Homo sapiens: one gene and its partners. The protein of the gene in region 1 interacts with the protein of each later gene in a biochemical or structural test. Each region holds a gene or a part of one and is shown in the gene's direction. Other genes may lie near its edges.

What was found. Proteins that work in one complex are often made in the same cells at the same time.
Region 2: of the proteins of NMT1 (region 1) and CABP2, one has a biochemical effect on the other in vitro, tested with the Homo sapiens proteins (one study listed by BioGRID).
Region 3: of the proteins of NMT1 (region 1) and FYN, one has a biochemical effect on the other in vitro, tested with the Homo sapiens proteins (one study listed by BioGRID).

The regions. Positions count from the first base shown.
Region 1 is NC_000017.11:45,099,315-45,106,339, forward strand, and holds part of NMT1 (glycylpeptide N-tetradecanoyltransferase 1), read left to right. Parts: intron 1-90; coding exon 91-199; intron 200-3,636; coding exon 3,637-3,807; intron 3,808-4,394; coding exon 4,395-4,562; intron 4,563-5,544; coding exon 5,545-5,682; intron 5,683-6,304; coding exon 6,305-6,325; 3' UTR 6,326-7,025.
Region 2 is NC_000011.10:67,520,436-67,527,503, reverse strand, and holds the start of CABP2 (calcium-binding protein 2), read left to right. Parts: upstream 1-4,057; 5' UTR 4,058-4,163; coding exon of another isoform or gene 4,164-4,177; coding exon 4,178-4,219; intron 4,220-4,787; coding exon 4,788-4,958; coding exon of another isoform or gene 4,959-4,962; intron 4,963-5,521; coding exon 5,522-5,552; intron 5,553-6,344; coding exon 6,345-6,479; intron 6,480-7,068.
Region 3 is NC_000006.12:111,660,442-111,667,466, reverse strand, and holds part of FYN (tyrosine-protein kinase Fyn), read left to right. Parts: intron 1-5,519; coding exon 5,520-5,728; 3' UTR 5,729-7,025. UniProt on the Homo sapiens protein: Non-receptor tyrosine-protein kinase that plays a role in many biological processes including regulation of cell growth and survival, cell adhesion, integrin-mediated signaling, cytoskeletal remodeling, cell motility, immune response and axon guidance.

The DNA.
Region 1 (7,025 bases):
CACCTGCTGGCCAGCTGGGGTCTCCCTGCCATTGTCCTTGTAATAGGGATTGGCCAGAACCCTGAGGACAGGACATTTGTGTCCCCACAGGTATTGGCATCGGTCCCTAAACCCACGGAAGCTGATTGAAGTGAAGTTCTCCCACCTGAGCAGAAATATGACCATGCAGCGCACCATGAAGCTCTACCGACTGCCAGAGGCCAGTGCTGCCCCGGGTGGTGGGCAGGGGGCAGAGAGAGGGCAAGGAGAGCCTGGCTGTCAGCAGGAGAGAAGGGCTCTGGGTGGAGAGGGAGCTTTCTCCTACTGGAAAAGCGAACCAGCCCATAGTCTTCAGATTTCCTGGACTTTCTATTTCTGTTATCTGAAGCAGGATTTTATTTTAGTTTAACTTTCTCAGTTCCTCTGAGTCTGTGCCTGGACTAGCTTCTCTGCCATCTGTTGAAAGGCTCAGAGAACACCTATTCTCTGTAATTTTAGCCTAAGTAAAGCATAAATAGAATGATGAATCCACTTAGTGAACCTTCATACACACGGCAGCGCGTTCCAAAGCCCAGCGCAGATGCACTACAGGGTCTGTGACGCCCCTCTGCCGGGTCAGGTAAAGGGTGACCTGAGCTTGTGAGGGATCCCCGATTTCTAATCCCAATTTCCCCACCCAGATTTGGCTGAAGGACTGGGCAACCTTAAAGTGAGCTGCTTTTCTGTTCTGGGTCTCAGTTTTCCTAGTTTCCCAAAGAAACAAATGCTCCAACTGTGGCTGGCTTCAGGTAGGGATTCTTTTTTTTTTGTTTTGAGACAGGGTCTCATTCTGTTGCCCAGGCTGGAGTGCAGTGGCACAGTCACAGCTCACTGCAGCCTCGACCTCCCAGACTCAACTGATTCTCCCACCTCAGCCTCCCAAGTAGCTGGGACTACAGGCGTGTGCCGCCATGCCCGGCCAATTTTTGTTTTTATAGAAACGGGGTTTTGCTGCCAGGCGCAGTGGCTCACGCCTGTAATCCCAGCACTTTGGGAGGCTGAGGTGGGCAGATCACGAGATCAGGAGATCAAGACCATCCTGGCTAACACGGTGAAACCCCGTCTCTAGTAAAAATATAAAAAATTAGCCAGTCGTGGTGTGGTGGGTGCCTGTAGTCCCAGCTACTTGGGAGGCTGAGGCAGGAGAATGGCATGGACCCGGGAGGTGGAGCTTGCAGTGAGCCAAGATCACGTCATTGCACTCCAGCCTAGGCGACAGAGCGAGACTCCGTCTCAAAATAAAAGAAGCCTGGGCGTGGTGGCTCACGCCTGTAATCCCAGCACTTTGGGAGGCCAAGGCAGGCGGATCACGAGGTCAGGAGATCGAGACCATCCTGGCCAACACGGTGAAACCCTGTCTCTAATAAAAATACAAAAAATTAGCTGGTCGTGGCGTGGCGGGCACCTGTAGTCCCAGCTACTTGGGAGGCTGAGGCAGGAGAATGGCATGAACCTGGGAGGCGGAGCTTGCAGTGAGCCAAGATCGCACCACTGCACTCCAACCTAGGCAACAGAGCAAGACTCCGTCTCAAAAAAAAAAAAAAAAAAAAAAAAAAAAAAAAAAGAAGGCCAGGCGCGGTGGCTCACACCTGTAATCCCAGCACTTTGGGAGGCCTAGGCGAGTGGATCACGAGGTCAGGAGATCGAGACCATCCTGGCTAACATGGTGAAACCCCGTCTCTACTAAAAATACAAAAAAAAATTAGCCGGGCTTGGTGGTGGGCGCCTGTAGTCCCAGCTACTCGGGAGGCTGAGGCAGGAGAATGGCGTGAACCCGGGAGGCGGAGCTTGCAGTGAGCTGAGATAGCGCCATTGCACTCCAGCCTGGCCCACAGAGCGAGACTCCATCTCAAAAAAAACAACAACAACAAAAAAAGGATTTTGCCATGTTGCCCAGGCTCATCTGAATTCCTGGGCTCAAGTGATCCACCCACCTCAGCCTCTCAAAGTGCTGGGATTACAGGCATGAGCCACTGTGCCCATCCCAGTAGGGATTCTTAAAATCCCTTCTCAGGTGGGCGGTGGCTCACGCCTGTAATCCCAGCACTTTGGCAGGACAAGGCGGGTGGATCACGAGGTCAAGAGATTGAGACCATCCTGCCAACATGGTGAAACCCTGTCTCTACTAAAAACACAAAAATTAGCTGGGTGTGGTATGTGCCTGTAATCCCAGCTACTTGGGAAGCTGAGGCAGCAGAGTTGCTTGAACCTGGGAGGCAGAGGTTGCAGCGAGCCGAGATCGCACCATTGGACTCCAGCCTGGCGACAGAGCAAGACTCCGTCGCAAAAAAAAAAAAAAAAAAAAAAGGAAAGAAAGAAAAAATCTCTTCTCTTTCCTCGGAGTGCTTCTTCCTATTGGTCATCAGTGCACACAGTCACTGCGTTCCTGCTGACATGAGGCTGCCTGCCTGGACTCCTCAGCCTCTAAACAGGATTGATCACTCTGAAATCAGGCTAATCCACCTAGTGATTGGGGTCATTAGTGTCCCATCTTGAGAGACTGCTGCAGTACCGTTAGACACTGCCAAAAGCACAGGCTTGGGGGACTGTGGTATGTGTCTTCTCCCTTCTGTTCTCATGACAGATCTGCCTTGCGTTCTAGGCCGGTGGGCAGGCAGGCAGAGAGCATTCTTAGAGTGCTGCAGCAGCAGAAGAATGTCTCACCCATGTCTGGGTGGAAACCCCAGCATGGCTGTGTTTTCAGTCCAGGATTTGAGGTATCATTGTGGGAGCTGCCATGTAGAATGAGGTCATTGAGCGTTCCCCTAAAGAGACGAGGATTTAGCAAGGAATTTTAGAGGCTGGAGGTTCTAGAACTGAAGTTTTAAAAGCAATTCCTGCACTGGGAAGCATTGTGTCAGGCACTGACTGAGGCCTGTAAACTGTGACACCACCCTGTTTGCAGATTGCCCCAAGGCCACCTTTGTGTATCTGAGCCTCTGGGGATGTTCTACCAGCCCCGGTATTTGCTCCACAGGATCACATGGTTTCATTCCACTGAAGCATTTTTCTAGCAAAAGCAGCTGCCGGGTGGGACGCTGACTGGGGATAAAATCCTGGGAGTATGCTGCTTTTCTTCTGAATGTAACCCACAGCCGTGTCTCTCTGGGAAGTACTGGTGTAATAGTGTCTGGGTGGGCAGACCCTGGCTGGGCCCTGGGGTCTGTCCGCGAAGTGCTCTAAGTCTAGCAGAGAAAGAGCAGTGAGTGTGGGATGGCATCAGTCACAGTTCAGTGAGAAGCCTGTGAGGACTGTTGGGCTGCGTGGGCAGAAGGTACAGCTAGAAAGGCCAACCTGGCCCAAGGGTAGAAATTCTTGTCTTCTGGGGTGGGGAGTTTGAAACAAGGGTGGAGCATGAAGGGTTGTGTTTTCTTAGGGAGTCAGCCTGGGGCCATGTAGATGGTTGATTGATGTAGCAGTCTGAGTCTGCCTGGACTAGGAGGGAAAGGGCCAGAAGATACGGAAGAGGCAGGCCCTGTGCCTGAGGAGATATGCACGGGGGTGCAGGGAGCCGCCGAATGACCAGGGATTCTCTCTTGAGGGCCTGATCTGTCCTTGCCATGGATAGATCCAGGGTGATCAGCTCATCTCACTCCATCTCTTCTGTCTTGCCTCCAGACTCCCAAGACAGCTGGGCTGCGACCAATGGAAACAAAGGACATTCCAGTAGTGCACCAGCTCCTCACCAGGTACTTGAAGCAATTTCACCTTACGCCCGTCATGAGCCAGGAGGAGGTGGAGCACTGGTTCTACCCCCAGGAGAATATCATCGACACTTTCGTGGTGGAGGTGAGTCAGGGAGTGGTGTTCCAGGTCTCTAACACGTTCCCAGAGAGGCACCCCCCTGAGTGGCCGGGTTCCCAGGGCTCGAGTGTTGGCACCTTAGACTTCCTTGACCATCCGTGTTTGGTCCTCCCTAAAAACAGGGAGTTGGTGCTTGAATTTGCTGAAAAGATACCTCTGGATCTGGCTTGAGCCCTTCTCCCCCTCTGCCCCACTTTGATAACACAAAATAGAGAGAACTGAGCCCCGCTTAATCCTTCAGGAAAGCCTGCAATTCCCTGCCTGTCCCAGCTTAACCCAGTGCTGACCAGACATAGGAGACACAGTCTGGGGGGATGTGAGCTGCAAGAAGAGGTCCCTGGCGGTGCCCATGCTGGGAAAGAGGTCTGGCAGGTTCAGCCCACGATCACGGCTCTGTCCTCAAGTGCCCTGAGCCAATGTCCCTCCTCCTCCCCACATGTCCTGTTGCAGTTTCCAGCCATTTATCTAGAGGGGCAGAGCTGCCTGAAGGTGGAGTGAGAGAAACATTTTGTTCCCGGGCCGCAGTGCCACTGTGCATGCTTGACATTGCCTCTTTATTGCCTTCCCTTCAGAACGCAAACGGAGAGGTGACAGATTTCCTGAGCTTTTATACGCTGCCCTCCACCATCATGAACCATCCAACCCACAAGAGTCTCAAAGCTGCTTATTCTTTCTACAACGTTCACACCCAGACCCCTCTTCTAGACCTCATGAGCGACGCCCTTGTCCTCGCCAAAATGGTGAGGAGCAGACGGGGGGGTCTCTGGAGATGTGCAGGGAAGAGGCAGTGGAGCCATGGTGAGCACAGCTCCCGGGACGCAGCCTCCCATGGGCTGGAGGCTCTGAGCCCTCCTCATCTGTTCTGCTTAGGCAGGGTTCCCGCAGTTTTTAGGCAGAAACTCAAAACTTGGAGGGAACAAGGAGCATCCGAAGTGAAGGCATTGAACTCCTCCTGATTCATTTCAGTGAGTTTCGTTCTCACAGGAGGCGCCACCAAGGAGCCTGAATAGCCAGGCCTTCCCTGGGAGGACAGGGCTTCTCCTCACAGCTTTCCCAGCGTGGGAAAGGGGTGATTGCTGTCTGTCGTGGTGAGTCATTGGAGCATCCAACTGCCAGTAGCGGATGGCGAGCCCGTCTGTCAGTGCTTTGCTGTGGGTTCTGGTAACCTGTGCCCAGCCCAGCCCAGCCTGCTGTAGGCAATCTGGTCCCTGCCCTGTGAGAGCTTCTGCTCCAGTTGGTGAGGTTTAGGAAGCATCTTCACAGTCTCCAAGCAACACAGCAGGTGTCATACAACATGAGGTGCACTGAGGGCCTGAGAGTTGGGGCATCCATGGAGTAAGGAAGCAACACAAACCCCATGTAGCTGACCAGAGCCAGCTTCTCAGAGGAATGGGCTCAGGGTTTGGACTCCAGAGAGGACTGTGGAAATTACTAGAGTTTCAGGGAGGCATAACCAGGAATAGCAAGAGCCCCGGCCTGGACACTGAGTACATATGTGTACACTCTGAGGGACACTGGGCAGAGGCCAGGCTGGAGGGGGCGCTCAGAGTGTCCTGAGAACCACCCGGAGAGCGGGGATTAACGTGGAAGCAGCGGAGCTTCTGAGGGAACCTTGTTCTTGTGGCTGCCCACAGGACAGCTTTGAAATGGCAGCAAAGGGGTAGGAAGGAGGCTGTCCCCACCTGTCCTCACCTGTTCTTGTTTGTCCCTGCTGCTTTGCAGAAAGGGTTTGATGTGTTCAATGCACTGGATCTCATGGAGAACAAAACCTTCCTGGAGAAGCTCAAGTTTGGCATAGGGGACGGCAACCTGCAGTATTACCTTTACAATTGGAAATGCCCCAGCATGGGGGCAGAGAAGGTAGGCGACACATAGCCAGAGTCCAGGCTGCCCGGCCCAGGGTGTCCATGTCTCCAGCAGAAACCGGGCCATGGGTTGAGGAGACAGCCGCAGTCTGGGTCCTTGTTACCTCGAGTTGAACCTTTGAAAATGCCCTCCCTCTGCTGGCCAGACCAGCAGGTCAGCGTTCCCCTCTCAGCAACTGGTGTGAGGATGGCAGAGGGGACAGAGCCACACAGTAGCACGAAGATCATCTCCAATGAGGCCTTCCCACGTGAGGGAACCGTGGAAGTTGAGTTGCCCACGGTTTGCCAGGAGGGTAGGGCTGGGGGAACTCTGAGGAGGTTTCCTCTCCTGAGCTGCTGCCCTCTTCTGGCATGACACTTTCTTAGCCCTTCCTCCCCCAGTGCCACAGGGGACATAGGGGTGAGCTGGAGCGTGGGCCAGTTTTCCCTGGGAGGTCTGATGGACGTGTGAACCCTGGTGTGGAGGTTGAGTGTGGGGCCGGCTGGGTGTGAGTCTGCTCCCACAGCACAGGCGGTGGACCCGGGCCCAGCCACTCGGAACTTCAGGGATAGGGGGTGTGGGAGAGTCTTTGGGCCACTGTCAACTCAGCTCTGCCTCTCCCTGTTGGCTTTCCTAGGTTGGACTGGTGCTACAATAACCAGTCACCAGTGCGATTCTGGATAAAGCCACTGAAAATTCGAACCAGGAAATGGAACCCCACCACTGTTGGTCCAATTTTCACACACGTGAGAATCCCTGGCAAAGGGAGCAGAACTGAACCGGCTTTACCAAACCGCCAGCGAACTTGACAATTGTATTGCGATGGCGTGGGCTGCGTGACGTCACCTCCGGTCGTGTCTCTGGTCTCCGTGTTTTCCAGTTAATTACATCCTCATGCAGCCGTGATCAAGGGAATGTAACTGCTGAAAACTAGCTCGTGATTGGCATATAATGGAGTTAACGGGTGAATAATAAAAGTATATATATATATTATATATATATAAATATTTTAAATATCTTTCATGTTCCAAATGTACAAGGATGTTTGGTCTTTAATGAAAAGCTGAATCCAGATCATTCCTCAGAATGAGGACCCGAGGACAGTGGCAGACAGACGCGTTGGCACAGTTCATGGTTTCCTCCAGAGGAGACATTGGCTTATCATGGGGAAAAAGAGGATCTGGAGAACCTCATCCAGCTCCCCTTCTGAATCAGCTGGGATGACTGGCTTTGAGAAGGAAGGGAAGATGGAACAGGCTCAGATCTCATGGGATAGCACGTGGAGCTCTTGGCTGGGGCTGACCCTGGGCAGGGACTTTCCTGCAGGGCCAGACCTGCCTGCATTCTGAGACAAAGCA
Region 2 (7,068 bases), on another chromosome or scaffold:
ATCACCTACCCATCCTTCCAGCCAGCCAGCCATTCACCTGTCCATCCATCCAACTTCTCATCTACTAACCCAACTATCCATCCTCCGGTCCATCCATTCATCTATCCATCCATCTGTCCATTTAAACACCAGTTCATCAAATTATCCACCCATCCATCCAACCACCCATTTTACCCAACCAACCATCCTTCTACCCATCCTTCCCTCTGTCTACCCATTAGTCAAACCCCTGATCCACCCATCCTGGACACTGGAGCCAGGACCCCAGCTTGGCTAAGTCAGGCTGGGCAAGTTGAGGGCACCAAGATGAGAGCTCCAGGATGCTGCTGATTGAACACAAGCAGGGGGATCTCCAAGCCAGGCTTTCTCCTCCACTTAGACACAAGGCCTTTGCTCCCTGACTGAAAACTTTTTTACCCCCTATACTCTGAGTGGTTACAGACCCCACTGTTTTGGATTATACTTTGGGACATACATTTCTCACCATTTTCCACTTTCAAAGATGGTTCTTTAGACCATTCATCACGTGTGGTGCCCACCACGTTCTGCACCTTCCTATGTGCCAGGAACCTGCCAGGTCCTGTCATCTAATTTCCACAATGGCACTGGGAGGCAGATGCTAGGTCAACCTCCACTTTTCAGATGACGAAACTGAGGCTCAAAGAGGTGACATACCTTTCCCAGGGTGACACGGTGTGTGCATGGGGGAACCTAGGCCTGCCGGCCCTTTCTGTGGTCTTGCAGAGGAGAATTTCTGTCTCCGATGAATGTTTTCAGAGACGTTACCGCCTGGGAAACCAGGCCGCTCCTGCTCTCCATGTGCAGAGGTGGGACTGAAGGACACTGAAGGCTGAAGCAATGGGAATGATCACAACCAGCCTTTCCACTCACTTCTCAACCCCGGCCTGTCCTCAGATGTGGAGGCTTTCCTCTGTCTGTGAGGCCACCCCCTCCCTTTGCTCAGCCATTCCCATCATCCTCTGCTCTTGGCTAGCATGTCAGTTCCTCAACCCCATCAAGCAAGGCCCTCCCTCTTTTTTTTTTTTTTCTTTCTTTCTTTCAAGACAGAGTCTCAGTCTGTCACCCAGGCTGGAGTGCAGTGGGGCGATCTCGGCTCACTGCAACCTCCACCTCCCAGGTTCAAGTGATTCTCATACCCCAGCCTCCCGAGTAGCTGGTATTACAGGCATGCGCCACCACGCCAGCTAATTTTTGTATTTTTAGTAGAGATGGGGTTTTGCCATGTTGGCCAGGATGATCTCAAATTCCTGACCTCAAATGATGCGCCTGCCTTGGCCTCCCATGGTGTTGGGATTACAGGCGTGAGCCACCACGCCCGGCCAAGTCCTCCCTCCTGAGAACCTTGGCCCTTCCTGCACTTCCCTGGCCACTGTCATTCTGGTTTGCTGAATAGGCATCTCCCAGCAGGTGAAAGGTTCCAGGATGTAGGGACTAGTTCCAGCACCCAGGAAGGTACAGAGCAGGGGCCGGACAAACGTTTGCTGCAGATTCAGCCTCTCAAAAATTTTCTCTGACCTCCTGCCACCTATACCCTCTCCAGAGGCCACTAGCCCCTTCCTCCCTCCCAAGGGCCTCCATCCAACCCACCTGCCAGGTTCCAGCTCCTGGGGCACTCCAAGTTCAAGGCTGATCCGTGCCAGGGACCCTGGCTCTCTCCCAGGGCCAGGCACAGGTTAAACATTGATAGGCAATGCCTGCAGCATTGCCTTATCCCCTCACCTCCTCCATGAAGCCTCCCTGATGCCTGGGCCAAGGACCCCAAGTACTTGGAGACTGTCTGGTGGCTCTTTTCCTGGTTAGACATGCCTGAGAGTGGGCTTCTCTGGACAGATGGGGTCTGTCACATAGCCCCAGAAGCTGGCCCAGCCAGCCTCAGCTGTTTGCTGAGGGAATACATGAATAGATGGCCGCATGTGGCTGAGAGAGGCCAGAGCCACCAGCTCAGGTGGCAGCACCTAGTGGGATCTGGTTCCCTTAGACAAAGGCCAGTGTGGGGGACAGATGAATAAATCATGAGGGGCCTGGAATGGAGCCGGGGCAGGATGATGACCTCATTCTGGGAGTTGAAGAGCGGGCAGCTGGGTGGGGAGTGGGCTGGGGTCATGGCAAGGAAGCCTGAGAGGCCAGCAGGGGCTGCCCGGCCCACCTCCACCCCTTTTCCTTGAGAAGCAAGAGGTTGAAGGTCAGCAGGACCAGGTGGAGGTCCTGGCAGAACGCAGGGAGGTGGGCAATGCAGAGGGACCCTGGGGAGGAGAGGGGGCTAGCACAGAGGGACCCTGGGGAGGAGGGAGGGAAGGAGGGGGCTAGCACAGAGGGACCCTGGGGAGGAGGGAGGGAAGGAGGGGGCAGCACAGAGGGACCCTGGGGAGGAGGGAGGGAGGCAGGGAGGTGGGCAGCACAGACGGACCCTAGGGCTCTGGGCTGGGGAGATGGGGAAGGCCTTTCCAGAATTCTGGAGCTCTCCTGGGAGCGGGATGGTGGGGAGAATAGGAAGAGCAAGGAAGGACAGACAGAAAGACCAATGCAAGAAAGGACCTTGCAGCAACAGAGGGAAGGAGCCAGCAGAGAGATGGGCTGAGTGGGTCAGAGACGGCAGAGACACCACTGGATCCAGACTGACAGAGATGGCGGCGAGTCAGAGGGGATGGAGACGGGGCTGCAGGCAAAACAGACACAGAGGCAGAGGGGGCACAGAGGGGCAGGCGGTGAGATGGAAACTGAGCAAGGAGGTGTGTGGGGCATCAGGTGCGCGTGAGCCAGAGAGATGCAGGCAGAACACTGCGGGGGAGGAGGCCAAAGGCAGGCAGGAGGGCCGACCACTGGGGCCACAAGGATGATCAGGTGGAGCCCCGGGCACAGTCTGTGACCAGCATGAGGGGCTTCACCAGGCTGACAGGGCCACACGAGGGGCCACGGGGAGCTAGGGAGGATACAAGACTCTGGGGACACGGGGCTCTCCCAGTTTATGGAGGAAGGGACAGAAAGAAGAGTAGCAGGGACCCAGGCCACACCTGTGGCTGCCCACAAGACCACTCTCCCGCAGGACTGGGGAGGCCGGACGGAGCAGCGTCCCTCAGCCAGGAGGAGGTACCAAGCCCTCATCTCCATGGCCCAGCCCCAGGGCCCAGCAGAGGGCAGCCTCCCAACGGGGGACCCCAGCCCCTCTGAGGGCACTCCAGGAACCAGCCAGGCCCCTGGCAGCCCAGCAGCCACCCGGCGACGAGAGCTTCTCCGGGAGCTCGAGGCCCAGGTGCAGGCAGCCTACGGGCAGGTAATGCGGGCAGGGGTATGAGGGGACCAGGAACAAAGAGCAGGGACCCCACACCCCAACTGGGGGCCCCGGAGGACAGACCCAGGACTTAGTCCAGGGAGGGGACCAGGAGGCAGAGTCCAATGGGAGACTCTCTGAGGTCGGCAGGGCCGGGGTGGCTTCCCTTCCCAATCTCCACCCTCACCGAGCCCTGTCACTGCCCACAGCACATAGGCGGTTCCCTTCTGCTCCTCATCCAAGGGCGGGGCACCAGTCCAGGCAGGGGGAGCCAAGTGCAAGCAATTGGGGCTACCCCGAGGTGAGGAGCCCAGGGCCCAGCTGGGGTCCTGGCAGGGAGAGGCAGGGGCTTCCTGGGCTGAGCCAAGTGGCTGCCTCTTTCTGGGAGGCTGTGTGGGAAGGCCCGCGTGTCCATACCAACCGGAATCTGTGCCATTCGGAGGGCCCAGCCCACCCTGGCACACTGCACGCCTGCCTTCCTCCTCCTGGGACCCAGGCCCTGCTTCTGAAGACATTAAATCTCCCCTGATTGGGAGAGATTAGAGGCAGGGGTTGGGGGAGGGTGCTGGAGAAGGGGCGTCTGGAAGACCCTCAGGAGGCAGTCTGGGGAGGCTGTGCTCTCCAGGGGGCCTTGGGCCCAAGTGGCTCCCCTCAGCAGCGGAGACGCTCAAAGATAATCCCGGATTAGGACCCAAGCCCCAGGCCCAAGTCCCCCGCCTGCCCACCCGCCCCCGATCTTCCCCACAAAACCCCAGGAAAATCCCCGGCAGTACTCCCAGGCTCTCATCGGGAGCAGCTGGGGGCTGGCAGGAGTCCTCAGGCAGCAGCATCCGCCGAGGCCCACCCGGGCCACCCCCGGGGTTCCAGGCCTGGCATGGTTCAGGGCCCATGGGGAACTGTGCCAAGCGGCCCTGGCGCCGGGGCCCTAAGGTAGGAGGGGTCAGGGGAGAAACCCAGGCCAGGAGGCTGGAATGGACCCTGAGGGTCAGATGGGATGGGCAGAGCCCTCCGAGGGCCGGGCGGGGTTGGGGGCTGCCCACTGCCCCAGGTGGAGATTTTTTTCCTGGAAGCCACAGCCTCTGGCCATCCTGATCTTGGCTCCCACCGACCTCTGGGTCTCCCCTGCCAGGCTCCAGGTCCCCCAGCTGCCCGTCCAGCTGCCCCATCCCGGCTGCAGGTCCCCGCTCTCTGCTAGCCAGCCTCCATCTAGGAGACAGAGCTGGGCACAAGGTCCCTCTCTGCCGCTGGCTTTCTCAGTGGCCTTGGCCAAGTCTCTTGCCTTTTCTGGTCCTCAGTTTGCCCAACAGAACAGTTAGAGGATTGACCCTTTCTGCCTAAAGAGTTCACGGGTGAGGGTCCTCTCTCTACCCCCCAGCCCCTTCCCTACTGTCCCATGCCGGGCTCCAAAGACAGGAGCAGCTGGTGAGAGGAGTGGGGAGGGCTATCAGGCCCAGAGCTCAGCGGCCACTGCCCCAGCTCACGGCCGGCTCTGCTGCAGGACCCCTTGCAGTGGCTCGGCTCCCCACCAAGGGGCTCCTGCCCCAGCCCCAGCTCCAGCCCCAAGGAGCAGGGGGACCCCGCGCCAGGCGTCCAGGGCTACTCGGTGCTCAACAGCCTGGTGGGGCCTGCCTGCATCTTCCTGCGGCCCAGCATTGCCGCCACCCAACTCGTATGTACGGCCACCCGCCCGCCAGCCTGCCTGCCCTTGCCCCTCTCCCACCAGCTCACCTGCCCTTGCCCCTCGCACTCCAGCCCACCTACCCTTGCCCCTCGCTTTGCCTCTCCTGGAGCTAGGGGGAAGAGGATTGAGTGGGGACATCAGAGCAAAGGTACACAGATCTGGGGTGGGGGTGCAGAGAGGGGAGAGAGCAATGACTCTAGAAATGGAAGAGAGATCAACAGTGACATTGAGGCTGGCGGGACCAAGTCTGAGGTTCTGCCCAAACCCCAGATCCACCACCAGCAAAGGGAGCCCCCTGCCCCAGAAGAGGGTGATGGAGTAGGTGAGGACGGCCCAAGGAGTGACCTAGGCCAGAAGCAGGGAAGGGGGCACCCGGTTACCCAGGCCAGTGAGTAGGATGGGGTGGGAACCAGGGCCGAGCAATCAGACAGACACAGGCCCTGCGTGTGCGTGTTGGATTGTGGGGCTGGGTGGGGAGCCCCGGGAAGCAAGAAGGAAGGGCACAGTCATCAGTAGGAGCAGGGAATTCCTAACCCCTCTGTGCCCTTCAGGACCGGGAGCTGCGGCCCGAGGAGATTGAAGGTAAAGGGTTGGAGAAGGAACTGGTTCCCTGAAGGGGAGGTGGCATGGGGGGCATGGGGTGGGGACACAGGGTTGGGGGGGCATCGGGTGGGGGCCTCAGTGTTTCCAGGAGGAAGTGGGAGCAAGAAGGCTGCAGGGGACCAGTTTAGGGAAATGGGGACAAGACTGAGCAGGGAGGGGATGACAGACCCCCACCCAGCTGTCATTCCTTGGTCTCACTCACCAGGCAGGTGACAGGGCCCCTTTTATATTTGTTCATTCAGCTGACACTTCCTGGGTGCCCACTGTGTGCCTGGCCCTGGCTGAGCACTGGGAAACATGGCCAGCTAGACAGATATGGCCCGTGCCCTCTGGAGACCAACGTCAATTAGTCAGCTACAAGTACAAATGGTGCATGTGCTCTCCAGGAAAGGGACAAATGGGCCGGGGGAGGCCACATGTAGAGGGATGGCTTCCTTTAGTAGGTGACATAGGACCAAAGAGGAAGGGGAAGAGTGAGGAAATCTCCAAGAGGTCAGAATTTGTTTCCCCCACTTTCTTTCTTTCTTCCTTTTTGAAAAATTTCACTGCTGTATCCCCAGTGCCTAGAGCAGAGCTTGGCACATAGTAGATGCTCCTCAAATATTTGCTGAAAGAACAAATAACAGGAACAGCACGTGCAAAGGCCCCGAGGCAGCAAAGAGAATCTGATGTTCAGAAGGAGGGATGATTGGACCAAGGGAGAAGGGTAGGCGGGTCCAGGCCAGGATCAGGGGGTTGTGGGGGAAGGACTGACCCCACCCTGCCTGGCAGAGCTGCAGGTCGCCTTCCAGGAGTTTGACCGAGACCGGGACGGCTACATTGGCTGCCGGGAGCTGGGTGCCTGCATGCGGACCCTGGGCTACATGCCCACCGAGATGGAGCTCATCGAGATCTCACAACAAATCAGTATGTGCCTCGGACCCATCCCCATCCCCAGTCCTCCAGATGCCCCCGCTGGGCCCATGAAGCCAAGCAGTCCAGGTACACAGGTGACTGCACAGGCTGTCCCCAGAGCCCATGACCTTGGTCATTCTCAAGGCAAGCTCTCTGCCTCTGGAGAATCTCACCAGCTTCTAGGAGGTGGGCACAGCAAGGACTGTGATCCTCATTCTGCAGATGAGGCAACTGAATGGCTAAGTGACTTGTCTAAGGTCACACAGCAAGTTCCTTGGAGCCAGGACTTGAACCCAACCGAAGAGTTCAGGAAAATTAAGGAAAGTTCCAAGAAGTTTTTTGGTTTTTTTGTTTGTTTGTTTTTTGTTTTTTGTTTTTTGTTTAGATGGGGTCTTTTTCTGTCACCCAGGAGTGACAATGGCGCTATCTCGGCTCACTGCAACATCTGCCTCCTGGGTTCAAGCAATTCTCCTGCCTCAGCCTCCTGAGTAGCTGGGATTACAGGCACCTGCCACCATGCCCAGCTAATTTTTGTATTTTTAGTGGAGACGGGGTTTCACCATGTTAGTCAGGCTGGTCTCGAACTCCTGACCTCAGGTGA
Region 3 (7,025 bases), on another chromosome or scaffold:
GCCTGGGCAACATAGCAAGATGCTATCTCTACAAAAAAAAAATAAATAAAAATAAAAATCAGCCAGGCATGGTGGTGCATACCTATAGTCCTAGCTGCTTGGGAGACTGAAGTGTGAGGAGGATCGCTTGAGCCCAGGAGTTCAAGGCTGCAGTGAGCCATGATCATGCCACTGCACTCCAGGCTGGGTGACAGAGCAAGACCTTGTCCCTTAAAAAATTTTTTTTCAAAGAATCTAAAAGGAAAAAGGGAAGACTACTGAGTTCATGTACAGCTCAAAGAAGTGGAATAGGGAAGTTTAAAAGAAAAGGGAAAAGAAAACACACACACAAGAATAGACACTGTTGGCAACCCTACAGAGTCAGAGTTTGAAAGTGAGAGTTGGAAACTTGACCTCTGAGTTTGCTGGAGGAAGCCAGCAACATGATTTAGAAAGGATAATATAATCATAATGGCAGGAAGTGAGCACAGTCTTCTTGGCTGGAGAATCTCAGTTGCAGTGTTTGGGGCAGACTGACTGGAAATGATGCTATGTCGGGGACCATGTTTGAAAGCCTAAAATCTGAGTTGACAAGGAGATGTTCCATGGAGGCTCTGGGAAAGAGGGACTCGAAGGCAGACCCCCACACAGCGGACTAGTAAGGTCTCGCTCTGTCACCCAGGCTGGAGTGCAGTGGCACCATTTCAGCTCACTACAGCCTCAACCTCCTGGGCTCAAGCAATCTTTCCACCTCAGCCTCCTGAACAGCTGGGACCACAGGTACATGCCACCATGCCCAGGTAATTTTTGTACTTTTTGTACAGACAGGGTTTTAACATGTTGCCCACGCTGGTCTCGAACTCCTGAGCTCAAGCGGTCTGCCTGCCTCAGCTTCCCGAAGTGCTGGAGGTGTTTTATGGATTGAGTACTGTTCAGTTGTACCCTATGAAAGTGACCCACCACAATGGCCTGTTTTCCTGAGCAATTCTAGAGAGACAGCAGAAGGGGCTGGTGGCTCCCGTGAGGCTAGAAGGGCAGAACAGCAGAGGAGGAGAGGGTTGGAACAAAATTGGGCAGTGGCCTCTGTGCTTGCTGGCTCCCCAGCCCCAAGCCGCCTCTCTGTGGGAACCAGGGAACATTCATACTGCTCGAACGTGGCTCTTCCCACAGTCAGACACCACTGGCCAGCCAGGATCTCCCCTCCTGTTGAAAAATGCTCTCCCTTGCAGCTCCCACTAGGAAACCTGGAAGGCCAAACTGTTTATGACATTGTTTCCCTAAAATGTGCTCAGACACCATGTTTTATAAAGTTTCTGTCTCTTCTTTCTGTTAAGAAAGGAGAAAAAGGATCCCAGCTACTCAGGAGGCTGAGGCATGAGAATTGCTTGAACCAGGGAGGTGGAGGTTGCAGTGAGCCGAGATTGTGCCACTGCACTCCAGCCTGGGCAACAGAGCGAGACTCTGTCTCAAAAAAAAAAAAAAAAAAAAAAAAGGAGAAAAAGGAAAAACATTTCCAGCACTCTTGTCCACCTCCTCAGTTGGAAGTGTAATAAAAAGATTCTTCTGGCTGGGCATGGTGGCTCACACCTGTAATCCCAGCACTTTGGGAGGCCGAGGTGGGCAGATCACTTGAAGCCAAGAATTCAAGACCAGCCTGGCCAACATAGTGAAACCCTGTCTCTACTAAAAATATAAAAAATTAGCCAGGTGTAGTGGCATGCACCTGTAGTCCCAGCTACTCAGGAGGCTGAGACAGGAGAATTGCTTGAACCTGGGAGGTGGAGGCTGCAGTGAGCCGAGATCACACCACTGCACTCCACCCCAGATGACAGAGCCACGCTTCATCTCAAAAAAAAATAAATAAATAAAAAATAAAAGGATTCCTCTCTCTAGTGTACCCATGTCTCTCAAGACACTCTCCCAACTGCCCTGGTGCCCAAACTCGTGTTTATTCCCTTCCTATTCACTATCCTTCACCTCTCAGGTATTAGGTAAAGCCAATGTCTTGGGGAAAAGTGGCTAAAAAGAGGAAATGACAGTTTTCTTTCTAACAAAAATATGAAACCATCTAAGAAGAAAAAAATGAAGTAGACCTATCTTTTTGTTAGTGTGCAGAGTAAAAGCCATTTAAAAAAAATTATTTAAAAAAACCATGATTTTCAAAATTCATATAGCTGAGAATACTGTATTTTAAATACAGGTTAAGTATCCCTAATCCAAAAATATGAAATTCAAAATGCACCAAAATCTGGAGCTTCTTGAGCACTGACATAACACGCAAAGGGAATGCTCAACTTACTGGTTGAGCAGCCCTATAATGCAAATATTTCAAAATCCTAAAAAATCTGAAATTTAAAACACTCCTGATCATAAGCATTTCAGAGAAGGGATACTCACCCTGAATTAACACAATCCATTCAATTTAGCTATTGTTTATAAAATAAAAACTAGCCCAAGCCTTGCTGAGTGGGCATATCTTGATTGCCACCGTTATTGTTGCAGAGGTACATTGTGAAGTTGCCAGGTCTGCAGGTCAGCCCGTTGCAGGTCCTGGTTTATGGATGGTTGGAAAAGAGCTAGTCCCATTCCAATTGTCATTGTCAGCCAAGTGCATTGTCAAAATATCCCACTTTCCTGGCAAAGCCCTCATTGGTATGTTTCCACTTGGCCCAGTGCGTGGAATTGTTTTCATATACTCCCCTTGCTTTGAGAGGTCTGGGCAGAAGAAAGCAGGAGAAGAAGAGGAGTGGGGAAGAGCGGAGGGGTGCAGACAGGAAAGGGGAGAGCGAGAAGGAGCCTGACCATGTGGGTCTGCCAGGACCCTGCATGGGCCAGCTTATGCCCTGTCCCCTGGCTCCAAATGCCCAGGAAAGACTGCCTCGGGAGACGCTACATGTTGAGGTTCACATCACCAAGTGTGCTGTGTCTGAGGCTTGGACCGAGCACTGGAAAAATGACCCAGTGGCCAATTAAACTTTCCATTGGCAGACATTGGATGAAAACTTTTTTTTTAAGTGAAATCTTTCCATTTGAGTAGTTTGTTTTTTAATGAAATGAAACATGTACTGACATGCGCTCTGTGGAGCAATAGGAGAGTGATTAATTAAACTCTGTGCTGCCATTTTGGAGGGAGGCACTCAGAGCCAGAGTCAAGCATTAGGAGGCGTTTCAGGGGCTGTAACCGCACCCAGAAGGATCTGTCAGGCCCTTCTGCCTGTTTCCCCTCAGTTCCTGTGGACTCCTGGAAGGGACAGAGACAAGGGAGATTTCTGCTGGTCCAAGCTCTGTCATTGCTGAAATATGAAACCAAGGACAGTACTAAAAGATGCGGCAAGGCAAATGCTTTGGAGAGTGCCAGTTCTGCTACGTGATTACACACTCTTCCTAATCTTTCTGGGCAATATGTATGAAGAAATAAAAACAGTAAATAGCCTCGTAATCAGTTCAGGTTTTGTGGCCAGATGAGGTCAGTTCAGATCAGTTCTGTAGTCAAGTGAGTTACAAAAACTTGATGGTGTTCAGAGCTCGTTGGATGGTGGAATTGTGGAGAAGGAAATGCTGGCCTCTGTCCGCGTTTATCTAGAGCCGGAGGAGGCTGCCTTTCATTCCCGAGCATGCTCCAGTTCCTCCCTTGCTTCCAGCTCCCCGCCCCCATCCCCCATTTTCAGCCATTGGAGGAGGATGTAGGCTAATTAGCCACAGCGCTGCCTCTCACTCCTCCCATGCAACTGAGGAAGTCGCTGGTAAAGGCATGCATGGCACAGAGGCAGGGACCCTGACTCCTTCACCAAACCTCTCTCCCTAAAATAAGGGGTCGCCCTGACACGTGAGTGAGGTTATTTTACAATAATTGCATTGAAGGCCTACTTCAGTACAGCAGAAACAATATGTGAATTTTTATTACCTCAAGAAATGATAATGGCAGAGAATAAGAAAGCATCCTGAAAAGGTCTGGAGAGACATGTGACTGACAGGCTGTGGTTGACAGCCAGGAGGAGCCAGGATACACTCAGCTCCACAAGTAACAACACAACCAAGAGGACTGGCAACAGACCCCGAAGTCCGAGTGTTCCCTCTGCAGGGGGACAGGCTGTGCTCTGGCCCAGCGCCTCTGGCTGTGCTGACAAGTTTCTAGCTAACGGGTCGCCACCTCCCCTAGAAGTAAAGGAAGCTCCATGCATATGGTGTGTGCTCCTGCTGGCTGTAGCCCTGGGAAATAGGGGAAGAAATCTTGGTTTCTATATGGCTTGACATCGGGTTCTTGCTCCTGCAAATTAACCGGGTCAGATACTGGGGAGGATTCCAGATGACAGCCTCACCGGCCAGGAAGCAACCAAAGCACAGCACAGCTTGACGGGGAGCTGGCAGAAGGTGATACAATGAAAAAGGGAAGCAAAACTAGAGAATAGTGGCTGGCAGTAGTTGGGAGGAGGTCAGGACACTGGCCACCCCCTAAGCATGGTAGTTCCTGTAGTGTTAAGGCAGCCAGTGTGCAGGAGGCCGCACTCTCTGAGGAGTTAGCGATCTGTCTTCTGTTAGTGCTATGCAGCCCAGTGTTTCAACAGCTTCCCAAGAGTCAGAAAAACCTCAAATGATGGATGGCCTGGCTGAAGTCATCAGTAGAGATAGGCCCCGGACATGGTCTATCTCCCCATCAAATTCACCAAACCTCAGGGCACTGTGGGGTTGCAGGGCCAGACAGTGCCCAGCCACGCTGGCATGATGGCAGATCTCCAACAGTGGGGAACTAAGAGTTTGCCCAGGCATGAAGAAAACGAATTTATGAAGTTCATAAATGGAGTTTATAAATGCTATAAACAAGGGGCAGCATGCTTTCATTCTGTGTGGATTTTTTTGTCTGCTTTATTCATATATTGTTGTCAGTTTAATTGAAGTATAATCTACACACAATAAAATTCAACAATTTTAAGGATGCAGTTTATTGAGTTTTGACAAACATAAACAGTCACACCACCCCATACATAATATAGAACAGGGGTTGGCAGGTCTGGCTCCCAACCTGTGTTTGTTTTGTACGTTTTTAAAGGGTTGTTAAAAAGAAGAAGACAGGGATCATATGTGACCCGCAAAGCCAAAAATATTTACTGTCTGGCCTTTTACAGGAAAAGTTTGTTGACCCGTTGACCCTGACAGAACATTCCCATCCCACTTGGAGTTCCCTCTGGCCCCTTGGCAGGGATTCCTCCCCTCCCCCAGGCAGCCACTGATCTGCTTTCTATAGATGTAGTTGCGCCTTTTCTAGAATTTCGCATGAATGAAATCATACCGTATGTTGCCTGTTGTGTCTGGCTTCCTTCACTTATCATGTTTTGAGAGTCATTCTGAATTTTTCATGTCTCAGTTCTGCACTCCTTCTTTACTCCTGAGTAGCATGGCAGGGTTTGACTCCTGGGGGGATGGGAGTACTCCGCATGTTTTAGCCACATGCAGACGCAAAGAAGAAGAAAGGGGATCTGCAAGTGCGGCGGTCAGGGCCTGGATCCCCGGGGTGCCCACTCTCACTGCGCTTGTCTTTGCAGGCATGAACAACCGGGAGGTGCTGGAGCAGGTGGAGCGAGGCTACAGGATGCCCTGCCCGCAGGACTGCCCCATCTCTCTGCATGAGCTCATGATCCACTGCTGGAAAAAGGACCCTGAAGAACGCCCCACTTTTGAGTACTTGCAGAGCTTCCTGGAAGACTACTTTACCGCGACAGAGCCCCAGTACCAACCTGGTGAAAACCTGTAAGGCCCGGGTCTGCGGAGAGAGGCCTTGTCCCAGAGGCTGCCCCACCCCTCCCCATTAGCTTTCAATTCCGTAGCCAGCTGCTCCCCAGCAGCGGAACCGCCCAGGATCAGATTGCATGTGACTCTGAAGCTGACGAACTTCCATGGCCCTCATTAATGACACTTGTCCCCAAATCCGAACCTCCTCTGTGAAGCATTCGAGACAGAACCTTGTTATTTCTCAGACTTTGGAAAATGCATTGTATCGATGTTATGTAAAAGGCCAAACCTCTGTTCAGTGTAAATAGTTACTCCAGTGCCAACAATCCTAGTGCTTTCCTTTTTTAAAAATGCAAATCCTATGTGATTTTAACTCTGTCTTCACCTGATTCAACTAAAAAAAAAAAAGTATTATTTTCCAAAAGTGGCCTCTTTGTCTAAAACAATAAAATTTTTTTTCATGTTTTAACAAAAACCAATCAGGACAGGTGTTTGTTTTTGTTTTCTTTTTTATAAATATGAATATATATAATATATATGTCCCTGTACATATACAATGTGGGTGCTAATGTGGAGACTGTGGCCGGCCTGAGCCACCAAGCTGCGGGACCCAGAGGGAGGATTTTACTGCAAGTCAGCATCAAAGCACCGGTGTTATTCTGAAAACACCAGTGGCCTCATTTTTGGCTTTTGCAAAGCATGAATTTTTTCATTTGGATTGCACTTTCCTGGTTCATGACTGTACCTGTAGGTGGTTGTTACTTTGACTCTTTTCAGGAACCACCCCCCAAGCTGAATTTACAAGTTCTGTTAGCACTATTTGCTTCAACTTACTGCGATTTGTTCTCAAAACTTAAAAATAAGCAAGCAAATGGCTGATACTACCAAGAGAACTGGAAGATGGATACCACACAAACTTCTTGTATAAAAATATGAATGCTGAAATGTTTCAGACATTTTTAATTTAATAAACCTGTAACCACATTTAAGTGATCTAAAACCCATAGCATTGTAGTCATGGCAACCCGCTAAACTTTCTCATGCAACTAAAATTTCTGGGGGAAATGAGGGTGGGGGTTGTACATTTCCCATTGTAAAATAAGTGTTTTAAATGTCCTGTACTGCTAACGAATGACTTTCTATATGTCCAGGAGTTCTCCAGTGGAATAACTATGCACTACTTTACATTTCATGGGGATGCACAAAAACAAAAAAGTATTACATTTTTAGTTGCTGTTTGTACCAACCTTAAATTACATATGTTTAACAACAACAAATCAAAAATCCTATTTCTATTGAGTTTTTAATACTGACTAGCA